Linked DNA regions of Homo sapiens. The protein of the gene in region 1 interacts with the protein of each later gene in a biochemical or structural test. Each region holds a gene or a part of one and is shown in the gene's direction. Other genes may lie near its edges.

The links.
Region 2: the proteins of CIAPIN1 (region 1) and GLRX3 form a complex in vitro, tested with the Homo sapiens proteins (one study listed by IntAct).

What each region holds. Positions count from the first base shown.
Region 1 is NC_000016.10:57,437,173-57,440,995, reverse strand, and holds part of CIAPIN1 (anamorsin), read left to right. Parts: intron 1-12; 5' UTR 13-67; coding exon 68-224; intron 225-1,661; coding exon 1,662-1,814; intron 1,815-3,823. UniProt on the Homo sapiens protein: Component of the cytosolic iron-sulfur (Fe-S) protein assembly (CIA) machinery required for the maturation of extramitochondrial Fe-S proteins.
Region 2 is NC_000010.11:130,142,830-130,146,652, forward strand, and holds part of GLRX3 (glutaredoxin-3), read left to right. Parts: intron 1-2,381; coding exon 2,382-2,490; intron 2,491-3,823. UniProt on the Homo sapiens protein: Together with BOLA2, acts as a cytosolic iron-sulfur (Fe-S) cluster assembly factor that facilitates [2Fe-2S] cluster insertion into a subset of cytosolic proteins.

The sequences.
Region 1 (3,823 bases):
GTCTCTGCCCAGTCTTGATTCCCTTTTGGCCAGCAGTTTTTAGGTCTGTCAGTACTGCACTGCAAGAATGGCAGATTTTGGGATCTCTGCTGGCCAGTTTGTGGCAGTGGTCTGGGATAAGTCATCCCCAGTGGAGGCTCTGAAAGGTCTGGTGGATAAGCTTCAAGCGTTAACCGGCAATGAGGGCCGCGTGTCTGTGGAAAACATCAAGCAGCTGTTGCAATGTAAGTACCCACCCACGTTGTCTTTATGAGGCTGGAGGGGTTTCCATGGGAGTGTTGCATTTCTGTGGTTCCTTGATATCTGAGTTTTCATTTAGGGTGGCATGTGATAGTGGTGGCTGGTCACCCTGTTGTTTTTCAGTTGAGATATATCGGAGGAACCACCCCCAATAATTCAACGTAGGTTCTTTTCTATTTTCCCTAAGTGTCGGCTGGTCTGAGAAATAAAGGGAAAGAGTACAAAAGAGAGAAATTTTAAAGCTGGGTGTCCGGGGGAGACATCACATGTCGGCGGGTTCCGTGATGCCCCTCAAGCCGCAAAACCAGCAAGTTTTTATTAGTGATTTTCAAAGGGGAGGGAGTGTACGAATAGGGTGTGGGTCACAGAGATCACATGCTTCACAAGGCAATAAAATAAGGCAAACGGGGGCAGAGCGAGATCACAGGACTGGGGCGAAATTAAAATTGCTAATAAAGTTTCGGGCACGCATTGTCATAGATAACATCTTATCAGGAGACAGGGTTTGAAAGCAGACAGCTGGTCTGACTAAAATTTACTGGGTGGGAATTTCCTCGTCCTAACAGGCCTGGGAGTGCTACGGGAGACCAGGGCTTATTTCATCCCTTATCTGCAACCATATAAGACAGACATCCCAGAGTGGCCATTTTAGAGACCTCCCCCTAGGAACGCATTCTCTTTCTCAGGGCTGTTCCTTGCTGAGAAAAAGAATTCAGTGATATTTCTCCTATTCACTTTTGTAAGAAGAGAAATATGGCTCTGTTCCGCCTGGCTCTCAGGCAGTCAGACCTGATGGTTATCTCCCTTGTTCCCTGAACATCGCTGTTATCCTGTTCTTTTTTCAAGGTGCGCAGATGTCGTATTGTTTAAATGCACATGCTTTATGAACAATTTGTGCAGTTAACGCAATCATCACAGGGTTCTGAGGCAACATACATCCTCAGCTTATGAAGATGACGGGATTAAGAGATTAAAGTAAAGACAGGCATAGGAAATCACAAGAGTATTGACTGAGGAAGTGATAAATGTCCATGAAATCTTCACAATTTATATTCAGAGATTGCAGTAAAGACAGGCGTAAGAAATTATAAAAGTATTAATTTGGGGAACTAATAAATGTTCATGAAATCTTCACAATTTGTGTACTTTTGCCATGGCTTCAGCCGGTCCCTCCGTTTGGGGTCCCTCACTTCCTGCAGCAGAGCTTAGGAGTGTAGTTGATGATTTCCATAAGTATGTTCTTTCTTGGTAGCTATTCCATGTTTTTTTAAAACACTTACTATTCATCCAGCTTCTTGGATGGATATCGAGTGGTGTCCATTCTCTCAGGGTGAGGTCTGTAGCTTTTGTTGGGGGTTGGAAGGGACCAGGAGATTATCCCAGGCTCAGGAGATTGCTAATTAGAGTCCTCTTCTTTTCAGCTGCCCACAAAGAATCCAGCTTTGACATTATTTTGTCAGGTTTAGTCCCAGGAAGCACCACTCTGCACAGTGCTGAGATTTTGGCTGAAATCGCCCGGATCCTTCGGCCTGGTGGATGTCTTTTTCTGAAGGAGCCAGTAGAGACAGCTGTAGGTAAGGAGATCTTCACTTGGAAAACATGTTTGACAGGGTTGAGTCTTAGAGTATGTGTGCTGCATCTCCGTGAGCAGGAGGTATCATTGGGAGATCAGTATTCCTGTAGCAAAACCTTTTCCTTGGGGATAAATTATTGTTAAAATCTGAAGCAACATATCTGGAGAAATTGTAATCTTTGGCTGACTCATTATGTAATAAAATAGAAGGAAACTGCCATCTAAAAATGGGTCCTTTTGCAGGTGAATAAACTTTGATATGTTCATAATATGGAAAGTGATGCAGCAATAAAAATGAACTAGCTAACTATATGTACATCAGCTTGGATGGATATCAAGGGAAGTAGCTGAGTGAAAAAAGCCAATCTCAAAAGGCTCTGTACTGTACAAATCCATTCATATGCTCGAAATAACAAAATTGTGGCGGTGGAGATCAGAGTTTGCCAGAGGTTAGAAGTGGGAGGAAAGGGTTGGTGGAGCTATAAAGGGGTAGTATGAGGGTTCCTGTGGTGATAGAACAATTCTGTGTTCTGAATGTCGTGGTGGTTACACAAATCTACACATATAATAAAATTACATAGAACTATATAGCCCCCTTCTGCCAAACGAGTACATATAAAAGAAATGAAATCTGAAAAAGTTATGTGGACCATCAATATCAATTTCCCGGTCTTCATATCATGCTATAATTGGGTAAGATGTTAACTGTGGGGAGGGACGAAGTGAAGACCTCCTTAATATACAGAACTTTTTTTTGTTTTTTCCAACTTCCTGTGAATCTATAGTTATTTCAAAATTAAAAGTTTAAAAATAGTGGCCGAACCCTGGGAATGATGTGGTAATTATTGATTCATGTGAAACTAATGACAGTGTTCATGAAGTAAAAACTTTTTTGATCGGTGGTATAGCTGTCAGAGTGATTCAAGTCTGGATTTTTAATATTTTTCACTAGACTTTCAGTCAAAACATAACCATTTCATCAAATAGAATAATAGAAATGAAAGTATTTTGAAATGTATAAAGGTGTTCATTGTTTATTTGGAAATAGAACTTTGTGTTATGTGTAGTATAAATCAGCATTCTTTGCTGGGAATTTAAACCTTACATGACTAAATGTAGTGTCTTAGAACTATACAGAGATAAAAAAGGAACTATTCAGAAGGAATACTTGTGTTTCTGTGCACTTTGCAGTTCATAAGCCTCTTTTCATAGTCATTATCTCACAACCTCTGGAAGGGGTTTCAAGAAGCAGAGAGTGATAAAAAAACAATAATAATGGAATTATAACATTTAAGAGCTTAGGTAAAAACACTTCGAACAACAAAAAGGATTTGTCAAATTAAAATAGTATCGCTATGGCCAGGCACAGTGGCTCACACCTGTAATCCCGGCAGTTTGAGAGGCTGGGGCAGGCAGGTTGCTTGAGTCCAGGAGTTCGAGACCAGCCTGGGCAACATGGCGAAACCCCGTCTCTACAAAAAATACAAAAATTAGCCCAGTGTGGTAGTGCACACCTATAACCCCAGCTACTTGGTGGGGGCTGAGGCAGGAAGATTGCTTGAACCTGGGAGGTCGAGGCTGCAATGAGCTGAGATCATGCCACCGCACTCCAGCCTGGGTGACAAAGTGAGACCCTGTCTCAAAAATAATAATAATAATAATAATAATAAAATAATATCACTAAAATATATATACAATTGTCCTCATCTTACAATGGAGTTACATCCTGATAAATACTATTAAGATGAAAATGCATGTAATTCATCTAACCTACTAAACACAATTGCTTAGGTTAGCCTAGCCTACCTTAAACACGCTTAGGACACTTGCGTTAGCCTACAGTTGGGCAGAATCATCTAACACAAAGCCTGTTTATAATAAAGTGCTTAGTATCTCATGTAATTTACTGAAAACTGAAGTATACAGTTTCTACTGAATGAGTATTACTTTCATACTATCATAAAAGTTGAAAAATTATAGGTAGAACCATCATTAAGTCAAGGACCATCT
Region 2 (3,823 bases), on another chromosome or scaffold:
TAGGACCCCTTCTCTGCTTTACTACATAAGTTCCTTCTCCTCCATCTGTCCTAACTTAATGTTGATAAGCCCCCTGAGGCGCTGACCTCGGGTCTCCTCTGTGTCCCTCTGTAACCCTTTGCGGTGTGGTGCTGGCACTGTTCCTTTCTTGATTCCCAAATCTGTATATCAGGTGCAGACTTCTTCCCTGAGCTCTAGACATCATACTAACAACCCATTAAACTTCCTTTCCTCAGGTTGGCAGCTTCTGCACTATGATTTGAGGCATAGTGCCACCACTAGCCATCAGTCTCTAAGCCAGAACTTGGAGCCAGCTGTAGACTGCCTTATCTGTCACCAAATCCTGCCCCTTCTACCTTCGAAATCCTCATGCTGCTCTTTGCTTCTGCTTTCCTGACACTTTATTGTAGGCTTATTCTCTTCTCGCTGGTATTATTTGATCAGTTTTTACAGTTTGTTATTCCTTTCCTTACCCATAGGTTAGTTGTCCTTGGTTCTTTTTGCCATGGAACATATTTCTGTTCGTGATTTTTCAGATTTTTTTGGGAGGTGGTATTATATTTGAACAGAATTCCATAAAACTGAAGGATTTTTTAGTTGGATATGACCATAGATATCTTTGCCAAGATAATTTTGTGTGAAAACTAACTAAAATAGATACTGAGTTATTAATATATTCTGTGTGTTCATACTATAAATGTTTAGAATTTTTTTTTTTTAAATGGGTCTTGCTCTGTTGCCCACACTGGAGTGTAGTGGTATGATCATGGCTCACTACAGCCTCGACCCCCTGGGCTCAAGTAATCCTTCCACCTTAGTCTGCCAGAATGCTGAGTACAGGCATGAGCCACCTTGCCTGGCCTAGAAAAATCTTTTTTTTTTTTTTGAGGCAGAGTCTTGCTCTGCCATCCAGGCTGCAGTGCAGTGGTGTGATCTCAGCTCACTGTAACCTCTGCCTTCTGGGTTCAAACAATTCTTCTGCCTCAGCCTCCTGAGTAGCTGGGATTACAGGCATGCACCAACACACCCGGCTAATTTTTTGTGCTTTTAGTAGAGTTGGGGTTTCACCACATTAGCCAGGCTGGTCTCGAACTGCCGACCTCAAGTGATCTGCCTGCCTCGGCCTCCCAAAGTGCTGGGATTACAGGTGTGAGCCACTGCTCTGGGTCTAGAAAAATCTTTTGTAGCATAATATTAAAAAGTATAAAAAAAAGTCTTTGTGAAAAGCAGTTCTATTCTTTTCCTCGTTTTGCACTGGCATGCCTTCATTTTCAACACTTACTGCTGTTTCTATGGTCACGGTTATGTCTCTCCATCACTATACCACATTTAAAAAGTAAATAATGATATTATTAGTAATGTGTCTACAACCATTTTTCACAAACATTGTGCCATTAATACAGAAATTCAGTTTCCACTTTGCCCAGGGGTCTGAAAATATGGTTGATTTGCCTGGCTTTTTTTTTTTTTTTTTCGTTTACTTTAAGTTCTGGGATACATATGCAGAATGTGCAGGTTTCTTACATAGGTATGCATGTGCCATGGTGGTTTGCTGCACCTATCAACCCATCATCTAGGTTTTAAGCCCTGCATGCATTAGGTATTTGTCCTAATGCTTTCTCTCCCCTTGCCCCCCACCCCCTGACAGGCCCTGGTATGTGATGTTCCCCTCCCTGTGTCCGTGTGGTTTCATTGTTCACCTCCCACTTATGAATGAGAACATGCAATGTTTGTTTTTCTGTTCCTGTGTTAGTTTACTGAGAATGGTGGCTTCCAGCTTCATCCATGTCCCTGCAAAGGACATGAACTCATTCCTTTTTATGACTGCATAGTATTCCATGGTATATATGTGCCACATTTCCTTTATCCAGTCTGTCATTGACAGGCATTTGGGTTGGTTCCAAGTCTTTGATATTGTAAATAGTGCTGCAATAACATAATGTGTGCATGTGTCTTTATAGTAGAATGATTTATAATCTTTTGGGTATATACCCAGTAATGGGATTGCTGGGTCAAATGGTATTTCTGGTTCTAGATCCTTGAGGAATTGCCACACTGTCTTCCACAATGGTTGAACTAATTTACACTCCCACCAACAGTGATTTACATGACTTTTAATTGAGGTGGATGAATATTCAGATCTACTTCAAATGGGCTTCACTTGAAATATCATTGAATTGAAAATTTATCTGAAAGAGTCTCAAGACCTTGCAGAGTGCTTTTATGTTCCAGTGTTGTATACAACAAAATTCTAGCAATATGAAAAACTTCAGACGGTTCTTTTAAAGCTTTCTTTTTTTTCTTTTTGGTAATTTATATCAGTATTTGTGTATTTCCAAAATTGGTATAATTTTAAATAAATGCATTTAATTGATTTACAGGTCCCTCCTTGTGGTCCATTTCTGGGCACCATGGGCTCCACAGTGTGCACAGATGAACGAAGTTATGGCAGAGTTAGCTAAAGAACTCCCTCAAGTTTCATTTGTGAAGGTATTTATATTTCAATGTCATGTCTTTTGTGAATTTAATTCTGATTTATGGGTTAGATTAGGGCTGGGTGCGGTAGCTCACACCTGTAATCCCAGCACTTTGGGAGGCTGAGGCGGGCAGATCACCTGAGTTCAGTAGTTTGAGACCAGCCCAGCCAACATAGTGAAACCCTGTCTCTACTAAAATACAAAAATTAGCTGGGCGTGGTGGCGGGTGCCTATAATCCCAGCTATGTGGGAGGCTGAGGCAGGAGAATCTTTTGAACCCGGGAGGCAGAGATTGCAGTGAGCCGAGATTGTGCCACTGCACTCCAGCCTGGGTGACAGAGCGAGACGCTGTCTCTAAATAAATAAATAAATAAAATAAAAAATTAGATTTTATTAACTAATATAAAGATGGAGTGGTATGGAATTCCAAATATGTATAATTGGTGTGGGATCTGTTATTTTTGCACATCATTCTTAAAAATCTTAAAATAATTTTGCATTTTTTTTTTTTTTGAGACAGAGTCTTGTTCTGTCGCCCAGGCTGGAGTGCAGCTCCAGCTCACTGCAACCTCTGCCTCCCCGGTTTAAGCGATTTTCCTGCCTAAGCCTCCCGAGTAGCTGGGACTACAGGCACATGCCACCACACCCAGCTAATTTTTTGTATTTTTAGTAGAGATGGGGTTTCACCATCTTAGCCAGGATAGTCTTGGTCTCTTGACCTCGTGATCTGCTCACCTTGGCCTCCCAAAGTACTGTGATTAGGCGTGAGCCACCACGCCTGGCCAAATGTACACTTTTCCTTGATCATCCTCGGGTGTGAGGCATGACTACCAAATGTCAAGGTGGCTGTGGGCTGGAGTTTTGGAGAGCACAGGCAGACAAATTAGTTCCCTGTGGGTAACTGTGGTTTTAAGGCATTTAAAATAGTAACACAAATTATGTCATTGAAAAGCTAGGTGTGCTGTAGAAAATAATTCAGGAAGGGGTATGTAAATGCTGCTAGGGACCAGGGAACAGGAAGTTGCTATCTTGGTTTAGATGAAGGCAGACCTCCGGGAGAAGGTGAAAGTCTTTCTAACCTGTTCAGAATGTAGAGGAAGATGGAAGCCAGTCAGTCTCTTCCTTGCCTCTTTTGTTTTTCACTCTGGTTATGTGTACTCCTACATTCCTGCTGTCTCTCTTGAGTGGATGAGTGCTAGGAAAGCTGTAGTTTTGACTGTGGATTAACTCAATTGGTTTAGCACGTTAAAGATATTATTCAGGACTTAGTACTGGTTTAGGCAGCAGGGCCAAAATATGTGTTGAGAGTCTTAGAAATGAATTATCAGGAGGGGAGGTGCACCTTG